Linked DNA regions of Homo sapiens: region 1 is linked to region 2. Evidence: fine-mapped expression QTL. A gene starts in region 2. The other region holds a variant in brackets. All regions are shown on one strand. Distances are from middle to middle. Region 1 overlaps LOC105375114 (a long non-coding RNA gene). Region 2 holds the start of LINC03014 (long intergenic non-protein coding RNA 3014).

Region 1 (5,377 bases), 34 kb after region 2:
TGAGGCCTGAGGGTTTTATTTCTTCCTCTGATCTCCCTGCCGGCGGGGCCACTGTGGCAGGACAATTCGGGGCCCCGCCCCCCAGATGTGCAGGTGCAGGCCAGTCTCGGGGGGATCGGCGGCTCCCGGGGGGCTGTGTCGGGGGGATCGGCGGCTCCCGGGGGGCTGTGTCGGGGGGATCGGCGGCTCCCGGGGGGCTGTGTCGGGGGGATCGGCGGCTCCCGGGGGGCTGTGTCGGGGGGATCGGCGGCTCCCGGGGGGCTGTGTCGGGGGGATCGGCGGCTGCCGGGGGGCTGTGGGATGGTGCCCCCGTCCCAGGGCTCCCGCACGGGAGGGCTTTGCACGTCCACCCCTCCTTTCCTTGACCAAACCCGGTTCTTATCCAGTCTTGTCTCTTCCTTTCTTTCTTTCTAAGCCCCCATGACCCAAGTCGGGGCTCTAGGGTGAGGGCTGCGTGTTCTGCTCCATGCAGCTGTCTGGACACTGCTGGACGAGGGCCTGTCTCCTGCGGGCTCCCACCCATTGTGGCGCAGGTTTACCCAGCCCTGCTTCACCAAAACATGACTTTATAAAGAAGAGTTATTTCTCAAACTGGGAGAAATCACTGCATTTGGTCAAACAATTATATATATATATATATATATATTTTTTTTTTTTTAACACAGAGTCTTGCTCTGTGGCCCAGGCTGGAGTACAATGGCGTGATCTCAGCTCACTGCAACCTCCGCCTCCTGGATTCAAGTGATTCTCCTGCCTCAGCCTCCTGAGTAGCTGGGATTATAGGCGCGCGCCACCACGCCTGGCTAATTTTTGTAATTTTAGTAGAGACAGTGTTTCACCATGTTGGTCAGGCTGGTCTCGAACTCCTGACCTCATGATCCACCCATCTCGGCCTCCGGAAGTGCTGGGATTACAGGGGTGAGCCAGCACGCCCGGCGGATTTATATTTGTAAAATCAGCTCTGCTCTGCTAAACAAATAATTAAAGAAAAGGTGAACACAAGACAGTGTAGACTGTTTAGGTGGCACCAAGAGAACCAGGGCCAGGGGTTGAGCCAGGATGAACACCAGGGGTCAAGGCCACAGCCAGGAGGGCCAAGGTGGGTGCCAGCTGTTGTGGGTGAGGCCAAGCCGGAGTGGGATCAGGGGTGACACTAATCCCTGGAGGAGAGACAAAGAGGGGGATGGGGGCTCAGGGAGTTGGGCCTTGAGGGACTTGCTATCTGATGAAAGGACGGACACGACCCACCAGATGAGGTGGACGGGCCTGGTAAGTGCCTGTCAAGGGTGGTGTGGAACAGAGAGGGGGCTCCTGTCTCACAGTGGGCAGCAGCCCAGCGTCTTTGAGACGGCGTGGAGATGGGCCTAGATCCTAGATGCTGAGAGGAGGCGTCCACACGGCTGAGGGAGGCCAGGCAGAGGCCATAGTGTGGGTGAAGGCCAGAGAATGGGCGAGCTCAGGGAACTGGGGGCCTCGGGGCAGAGCCCGGAGCAGAATGATGGGTGTGGGTGCAGGTGGGGCACAGGCTGGAGGTGTTGGGAAGAAGCCTGCGAGCCTGGTGCTGAGTGCCTGGCTAGCACCGAGTTCACCCGAGGAGCTCCTGAGTGTGGAGGGGAGATGGGGCTGGACCGGGACACTGGTGAGTCCATTCCTGGATGGGCAGAACTCAGCCACAGAGACCAGCCAGCAGGTTATGGGAAAGAGCCCCTGTGGAGGGCAAGGAGGGCGAGGGAGGGAAAAGGGTCTGCTTCGCTTTTTCCCGAGGACGTTGAAGGAAGGGAGAGGGCTTATGGAGAAGAGCAGGCCTCCATGTCCAGAGCAGGAATCCGAAAGTGGAATGTGTTTGCCAGATATTCTCTCTCCTCTGTCTCTCCCACTTCTCTCTGCCTGTATCTCTGTCTCCTCTTTGTCTCTCCCTCTCCCTCTCTGTCTCCTCTTTGTCTCTCCCTCTCCCTCTCTGTCTCCTCTTTGTCTCTCCCTCTCCCTCTCTGTCTCTGTTCTCGCTGCAGGAGCCCGTCCATATCCCTCATCCAGCAAACTCCATGGCCATGCAGGGCTCCTCAGGACACTGCAGTTGTGCCCTGTTTAAAACAATAACTGTTTCTCAAGTTTCTTGGAGTGAAGCCACCATGACCTTTGCAACAGACGAAGCCTACACTTTTTCCAAGTGTGACTCAAAGGACAAAAGGTTCATGCACAAGGCAGTTCTAAAAGTGGATGGGTAATTGCTGGTTCTGCTTCCTGTAAGGATTTTGTAAGATCACACCAAACCCACTCCCTTACAGAAAACAGCTTCAAAATCTGTACACAATGCAAACAGGCTGCTTGTGGGCGTTGGAGAGTGAACAGCAAGACGGACCTGGGGTGTACACGGGGGATAAAGGAGTTGCAGGAAGCACGTTCTCTTTGACCGTGGCTGTTAGCCTGAGCACTATGTAGTTAGGGCATGAGGAGCTGGGGGTCCTCAGGGAAGACCACAGTCTTCATGGCCTGGAACAGGAGCAGGACGAAATTGGGGAAGCTGTGGCCAGTGGAGGGGGGGAGCGTCCAGAAGGGGAAACTTGGCGGACTCTACTCATGTTTCCGACTGGCCCTGAACTGCACACACTCAAAGCAGATAAAAGAAGCCCAGCTAAAGGCTGGTACAAAATGACCTTCTTTATAATGCTGGTTGTGTTCATTGTTCAATATTAATATAGCTGTTCCCGCTTTTTTTTTTTTTGACTAGTGTTAGTACAGTGTATCTTTTAAAATCCCATTAGTTTTCATGTATTTGTGAATTTATATTTAAAGTGGGTTTTGGGTAGGCAGCAATTAGTTGGGTCTTGCTTTGTTATTAAGTCTGACAAACTGCCACTGAATTAGACCAATGGTTATAGATCATTTTCATCTACCATCACTGTTGATAATGGTTGGACTTAAACCACCATCTTGCTATTTGCATTTTATTTATCCTGTCTACTTTTTGTTTCCTGTTCCTCTTAGCCAGCCTTCTTCTGGACTGGGTATTTTTTAATCATCCCATTTAATCACTTCTGTTGGCTTATTCCCCATAACTCTGT[C/T]TGTACATATGTATGTGTGCGTGTGTGTGTATACATTTTAGGGTTTATAGTGTGCACCTTCAACTTATCATAATCTATCTTCAAATAATATTACACTACATCATGATGGTTTAATAACCTTACAGCAGCACACTTCCATTCCCTGCCCTCCTTCATGTCCTTGTGGGCACATATTTTATTTCTCTACATGTTCTATACCCAGCAAAACATGCTTTTCCTTCCTGTGCTTCTATCGGGTCTCCTATAATGTCATTTTCCTCTTGTCCAAAGGACTTTCTTTAATATCTCTTAGTGCTTATCTGCTGGTATGATTAATATTTTAGCTTTTATATGTCTGAAAAACTTGATATCTCACCCTGTTTCTACCTTTGTTGCCAGGTACAGAATCACAAATCAACAGGCTTTTCCCGGCAGTACTTTGCAGAGCTTGTTCCACTGTCCTCTAGCTCGCCTCATTTTCAAGGAGAAACCTGTCGTCATCCTTGTCTTTGTTCCTCTGTACCCAGCACGTCTCTTTTCTTCTGCCTGCTGTTAAGATTGTCTCGTTCTTACCCAGTTTAAGCAGTTTGGTTAAGATGTGCCTTCTTCGTACTTCATACTTTTTGGACTGGGATATGTAGCTTTTAAAAAGCAAATTTCAAAAGATTTCAGTCATTATGTCCTCCTTTTTTTTCTGTTTTTTTTTCTTTGTTTTCTTTCTGGGACTCTAAATGTATGAATTTTAGGCCAATTGAAGTTGCCCCCCAATTAGCTTTCTGCTCCTTTTGAAGGGGTCTATTTTCTGTCTGTGTTTCACTTTGGATGGTTTCTATTATATACCTTTAAGTTCATTAATCTTTCCTTTTGTAGTGTCTGTCTAATCTCATCATCTCATCCAGTGAATTTTCTTTATCTCAGAAATGGTTTCATCTCTAAAAGTTAGAATTGGGACTTTTTAATGTTTTTCATATCTCTGCTTAACGTTATCATGTGGAATAGAGTGATAATAACTACAGTTCATCTGTGTCTAGGAATGCCCTCATCTGTGCCATTTGTGAATTAGTTTCAATTTGTTGATATTCCTCATTACATGATGTGTTTTCCTGCCTCTTTGCATACTTGGTGATTTTTTACTGTATGCTAGACATCATGTACTTTTCCTTGTTAGATCCTGGATAGTTTTGCACTCCTAAAATTATTTTAAAACTTTTCAGGGATGAAGTTACTTTACTTGGAAACAATTTGATATATTTGAGGCTTGATTTTAAGCTTTTTTGGGTGGGGCCTAAATTAGTCTAGGACTGATTATGCTCTACTACTGAGGTGATACCATGCTGAAAAAGCTTAATAAGGAGAAAGATCAATCAATAAATATTCACGTATATTCACAAAATATAATGAGGAGAAAAATCAATCAGTAAATATTCACGTAACCCTAAAAAAAGTTAAGAAATGAGAAACAAAGGGGGGAACTGGAGGGTATGTATAGAGAGCGAGGCATAAAATTACAGACCCAGACATAACCATGTCAATACTTATTTAAATATGAGTGGACCAAAGATTTCAGGTAAAACGCAGAGGTTGTCAGAATAGATATGAAAACAAGACCCACACACATGCTGTCTTCCAAAATTGCACTTGAAGAACAGAGACACAGGTAGCTTTAAATGACATTAAAGTTAAAGCATAAACACTGGAAAGGGAGAAGAAGAACTGCCTCTTTATGCAGATATCATGAATCATGTATGAGGAAGTATCTTAAGAAACTTACAAACAACTAGCATAGGCACTGAGAAAGCGTGGTCTACTCATCAACCACAAACAGGAATGAAGCCCTAACATGCCACAATATGGATGAACCTTGAAACTGAAAACATGATGAGTGAAAGAAGACGGACACAAAGGGCCGCATGTTATATGATTCCAGTTATACGAAATGGGCAGATCTAAAGAGGCAGAACGCAGGTTAGTGGTGACAGGAGCTGGGGGAAGGGAGGAACAGAGAGTGACACCTCGATTGATGTGGTGTCTCCTTTCTTGGTGATGCGAATGTCCTGGGGCCGACAACGTGGTGAACGCACTGGATGCCACTGAATTGTGCACTTCAAAATTGTGAAAATAGTGAATTTTATAATATGTGAATTTTACCACCATAAAAACCAAACTATTAGTACAAATAAAATTAGTTTAGCCAAGTTGCAGCATTTAACTTTCATAGAAAAATCGATTGTATGTCTTTGCTCATCAATATACTACCGTGCCACTTATGGTCCTTTTGAAGAAATGAGACAGCTGATGCTAAGATTTACATGGAAAGACAAAAGGGTTAAAATATC
Region 2 (5,377 bases):
CAGTTTGAGACCAACCTGGACAACATAGCGAGAGCTGGTCTCTACAAAAAATACAAAAAATTTAGCCAGGCATGGTGGTGCCTGCCTGTGGTCCCAGCTACGCAGGAGGCTGAGCTGGGAGGATCACCTGAGCCTGGGAGGCTGAGTAAGCCAGGATCACACCACTGCACTCCAGTCTTGGCGATGGACTGAGACCCTGTCTCAATGATCAATAATAATAATAATTCAGACAAACCAGGTCGAAAAATGTCCTGAGACGGTGAACTCAGGACCCAGCTACCTGGGGTGGACACTGTGGCTGATGGACCGGAAAGGGTAACACCAAAGGGCTCTAGGAGGTGTCTCATGTCTGGCTGTTGTCACTCCCCTTGGCCGCTGAAAGCCTTTCTGTTCCCCAGAATCGAGTAAGGAGCTCCTGGACAGAAGTGGGGAAGGAGTCTTCCTGCTCAGGGCTATGTTACTTAACTCCGTTTAAGTGACAGAGCATGAACAGGTCATATTAGTGTCACATGCACCCGATTTCATTCTCCATTTGCAACAATGAAGACTGTATAACGACATTGTTAAATACCCCAGAATTATAATTAAATCTTATTAGCCAATAGAATCTGAGTGTGCTAAAATCTCTATTAGCCGGGACTGATGTAGCCACGATGGCCATGCTCGGCGCGGCGGCTCACACCCGTAATCCCAAAGCATTTCGGGAGGCTGAGGTGGGCGGATCACGACGTCAGGAGTTTGAGACTAGCCTGGCCAACATGATGAAACCCCGTCTCTACCAAAAATACAAAAATTAGCTGGGTGTGGTGGCACGCACCAGTAATCCCCGCTATTTGGGAGGCTGAGGCAGGAGAATTGTTTGAACCCAGGAGGCGGAGGTTGCAGTGAGCCGAGATCCTGCCATCGCACTCCAGCCTGGGGGACAAAGCCAGACTCCATCTTGGGTGGGGGTGGGGAGGAAGAGGAGAGAGACCAAGCAGCAATATCATCGATAACAAATTACAATCCAAATTCTAGGCGGTGTTCTGGGACTGGTTCACATCCAGCTTGGTCTGGCCTTGCCACTCCCACAGGGCAGGACACACTGAGGTCTGCCTGGGGGTGCCTGCTCTGGCGGCTGGGCTCCCCGCTTTCTGCAGGCTCAGGTGCCCCCTATTCCTGCAGCCCTTCCTGGACCCAGCCTGTCCTCATCTCAAACTCGGGGCTGCTGGCCTGAGCTTGATCCCTTCACCGTTTCTCACTAATACGTCACTCTCGCCTCTTAAAAGATGACAAAGACTCTCTCCTTTGACCACACTCGAGTCAGGCTCCTCTGAGCCCTCCCTGTGACCAGTCCCTGACCTTGGCCGGTTTCGGCCGATTTAGCAAGAATCCTGCTGAGTCGGTTTAGTGAAAATCGTCTACTCTTGGTCCCTGATCAAAGTCCTCAACTCCCACCCTCGGTCTGTGACCACACTGCCTGCCTTTTCAGCAAAAATCCTGTCTATGCAGCTAGAACCCGCCTTGCCCCTGACCCTTCCTCTTAGTAATTTTCTCTCCACTCCCGACCCTACGCCTGGGCTGTCAATTCCCACTTTTTCTATCTGGAGTTGAGCCGGATCTGCCTCCCCTAACCCAACATCTCGCTTTAGCAGCCCCCCCACCTTGAATAAAAGCAGCCTTGCCCTCTTTAACAATTAATAAGCACAGACTGGGACAGGACATCCCCCTCCATCCCAGCGCCCATGCACCCTCAGCCACGGTCCTCAGACCTCAAGAAACCCAGCGGGTGACAAGCTTGGGTGTCAGCGGGGCTGGGATTGCTGCTGGGGGCACAGGAGCTCGGGAGCACTTTGCAGGTGAGCAGGGCCTGGACAGGGGCTTCTCTGCAGCCCACCCCTGGGGAGGACTCCGGGCCCTCGCCCTGGACGGCAGAGCTCGTTTTGCTGTTGCCCTACTGTCTCCGCGACCTTGGGGGTTCACTTAGCACCCCCAGGCCAACACCTGGCCTCTCCATGCACCAACACCTGGCCTCTCCTTCCCTGGCCTGCCGCCCTGCCTGTGTCTGGACTGTGGTTCACCGAGTGTGCACGTGGGCCTCGGAGGCTGCCCTATAGAGCCCAAAGTCCCAGGGAGGAGCAAAGGGGACCAAGTGCACACTCACCCAGCTTCCTCTGCCCGGCAACGTCCCTGCCCCCATCTCCCCTCCACCGCCACCAGGGCCTGCATCCCCATCTGCAAAGGGGACAGGGTGCCCACGCCTTCTGAAGCACGCGCTCTCCAGGCCGCTCTCCGGGCGTCACCCCGCCCTGCTCCCCTCGCCCCTGCACAGCCCGAGTCCAGCCTGGTCGCTGCCATCAGGACGATCAGGACCGACCGCCACCATCAGTGGGGACCGGCCAGGGCGGTTAGGCCCGGTCCGGGGCCCCAGGTCCCGCGTCCCCGCCGAGGCCAGGCAGGGAGGCCTGGCTGCCCCGGGCTTTAGAACCAAAATAAGCCCCGAAATGATTGGCGGCGCCCATGCGCCAGGAGAAAACCTAAAGGACGAACGTTCCCGAGTACATATAAGGACGATTAATATTTATTGCACAACTTTTTTTTTTACTTCCTTGTTAAAGAGGAAAACCTTACGCTAAAAATAAAACGACTAGGAGCCCTTGTGCCTGCGTGGGTGGCGCTCGCGCCTTTAAACCTGAAGCCACAGGGGCTCAGCCCCCCACCCGCGCAGGGCGGCTCCTGCGCATGCGTAAACAGAAGGGGTCGGGGCGCGGCCCAAGACGACGCCAAGGGAGCGGACGGGCGGGGAGGAGGTGGCCTCTGCGCAGGCGCAGAGAGGAGCGAGCGACTCCTGCGCAAGCGCAGAGTGAAGGGCCGGGAACAGTGGAGGGTGCGAGGAAGACAATGGGGGAGGACCCTGAGGCGGCCTCTGTGAGCCGACAGGAACACGTGGTCGATCAGAGAGAGACTCGTAAGTGCACGGAGCTGATGAGGTGACTATGGCGTTGCGCAGGCGTCCTGTAGAGGCGGGTTGTCATCGGCGCAGGCGCGGTGTGGAGGAAGCCCCGGCGCCGGCGCAATGAGGAGGCGGCCGGACTCGGCGCTGGCGCAGTGTGGAGGAGGCTCCGGCGCAGGCGCAGACGCAGGGCGGGCAATGGCCGCCTGGGTCTCTCGGGCAGCCCTGCCCACCTCTCTCGCGTCTCCTGGTCTTGGCCTGCGGCTCTCTTTCTGGCAGGTGCCGCGGCGTCTCCTGCGGGCCTGACCGTGTTCTCCCGCCTAGCCAGGCTCTTCTGCGCTCCTTTTTTGTTGAGATTTTTCCATCCCCTGCACAGGAAGTGTCCTTTAATTACTCCAGTGTTTTTTTAGTTACTTTTTAAGAAACATTTTGGACTTTTCGATACAGAATAGTGTCAAAAAAAAAATTTAACCTTCTTCAGGTTATATTTTAGTGAATGATATTAATATATGTTCCAAAGTTGTATGGGATTTCTAAAATTCTAATTTTTCTGAGTATATGCTACCGATCATAATTATGGTTATGTTGTTGTTATAACCAAATTTCTTTGTCAATTGTGTCTTTTTGAGTATTTAAAGTCATTTCCGCAGTTAATTGCTTCATGCTGATGTAGTTTCTGAAAACTTCACAAGCACACAAAAATCCTAGAACATGGTGTCTTTTAGGAGGTTCGTGAACGGATGGGGAGGACCCTGAAAAGCACTGTGGAATACAGGTTTCTAGTAACTTCAAAATCACATCATTTGGACTGGGTAAGAATTGCTGAAACTTTAATGAAAAGACTGACTGGCTTATAAAACTGCTAACCCAAATAGAATAAAAATTAATTGAATACCGAGGAAATGCTTCACCAGGTTTGCATACTTAATCAGCCTATACTGAAATTGTTTAGATATACAATTTGAATGAACTCCATGGTCTAAGTCAAATTACCTGTGATAACCCATCAGTTATCCATGCTATGTGCCCAATTTGGAGAAACAACTGGCACCCAAGAGGACATAAGTCCGATGTTAAGCATGGACTCATGGAGAACCAAGATGGCTGCCTTGTCCTTCGTGAGTCCTTAAAGCTTTTGTTATTAAAAGTTATGCATTCCATGACTCATCCTGGAAAAGATAAAATGATCCAAATTAAATATGTTGGTGTGGTGACTTACAGATTGTTAAAATAGTTTATAAACAATGTTTAGTTTGTCAAACCCATACTCCTGGGAAGTCAATCAAAGCTTCATGTACATTTGGCTACCTGATGAGGCATTTAAACATTTATAAAGGGGTTTCATTCAGTTGTCATTTTCAATGTATGTGTTCTGGTTGTACTAAAGCTTTCCCATGCAGGAGGGCTAATGTTATAACAGTAGATTACTATGTATCAGTGTATTTTCACCAGGTAAAGAGCTTTTTATGGTTCACTGAGGACAATCAACCCCTTCACAATCTAGAACCCAAAGATGGGATCTTCTGAGAACATCAGAGAAACGCTGCCCTTGGCATCATCACTGCAACAAAACATCAGGATCTTGAACCTTGGGGTCATAATCTCACAACTGAGCAGGGTCACTCTTGGAACTCTACATCCATTGAAACCCTTAAGGTAAAGCTAATCAGGGAAGTTTCTCCCCAGAAGAAGATGGCATCCTTGATGTGAGCAGCTCTTTCTGAAGATCATGGATCAAGACTTCTTACTATCATGAGACTCTTATCTTTGAATGTTTTTCCGTTGCTTCCGCCTCTGTGAACAACAGAAGTGAGAAGGGGGTCTGTTTTGTGCACTTATGGGGTATACTTTTATTTGTGAAGGGCTTTGCAGCCAGCTTTATACATGGATAATCTTATAACTTGATAGATAAAGATGAAGGCCCAGTGTATCATAGGTGAGAAACTTCAATGGTACATATGGTGCCTCATAATCATTCAGAAGCAGAACATTGGTTCACTCCTCTTAACCCACAGCATGGGTTAAAGAGACCATTGCCAAGAGGCCTTCCCTCTTCTAGAAGGGCATCATTTGTTAGGTCCTTTTTCCATGGTTTGGAATTAAAAAGGCAATGACTAGAAACATATCCCTCATGGTAGACTCTGTAGCAGATTCTACTGTAAAGGCTACACAACAGATGTTAAATTCTCTTGTGAAAGTTATGCTAAAAAATAGAATTGGCTAAACAGGAAAGTACCTGTGCAGATGCTGGCACTTAAGGCCTATGGAGAAAACATCAGGTGTTATAGAGAGTCTGTTGTAGGGAATTAACGAAAAGACCACTGAGTTAAGTCAAAGAATGGTCTATTTGAGTTTAGGTGGTCTGGTTTATGGGGACCCTGGCTAAGGAGCATACTCCAAATTCTTGGTGTTAACCCTCTCAGTAGTCATAAGAATAGTCTCCCT

Evidence for each region. PIP is the estimated chance that this variant, and not a neighbour inherited with it, causes the effect.
Region 1: its variant is fine-mapped to the expression of LINC03014 in whole blood (INTERVAL, PIP above 0.99).

Annotation. Positions count from the first base shown.
Region 1 is chr7:112,530-117,906 of GRCh38, reverse strand. LOC105375114 (a long non-coding RNA gene) reads left to right here. Exons shown (of 3, transcript XR_926959.3): 3 at 2,010-5,251. Among named protein-coding and RNA genes, the nearest start is that of LINC03015, 34 kb to the left of the region's middle. The variant C/T (reference allele first, on the strand shown) is at 3,063.
Region 2 is chr7:146,899-152,275 of GRCh38, reverse strand. LINC03014 (long intergenic non-protein coding RNA 3014) reads right to left here and starts at 2,558. Exons shown (of 2, transcript NR_108065.1): 1 at 2,144-2,558. It overlaps LINC03015 (long intergenic non-protein coding RNA 3015), which reads left to right and starts at 2,838. Exons shown (of 3, transcript NR_134325.1): 1 at 2,838-2,947; 2 at 3,658-3,744. RefSeq lists an enhancer at 2,813-3,107.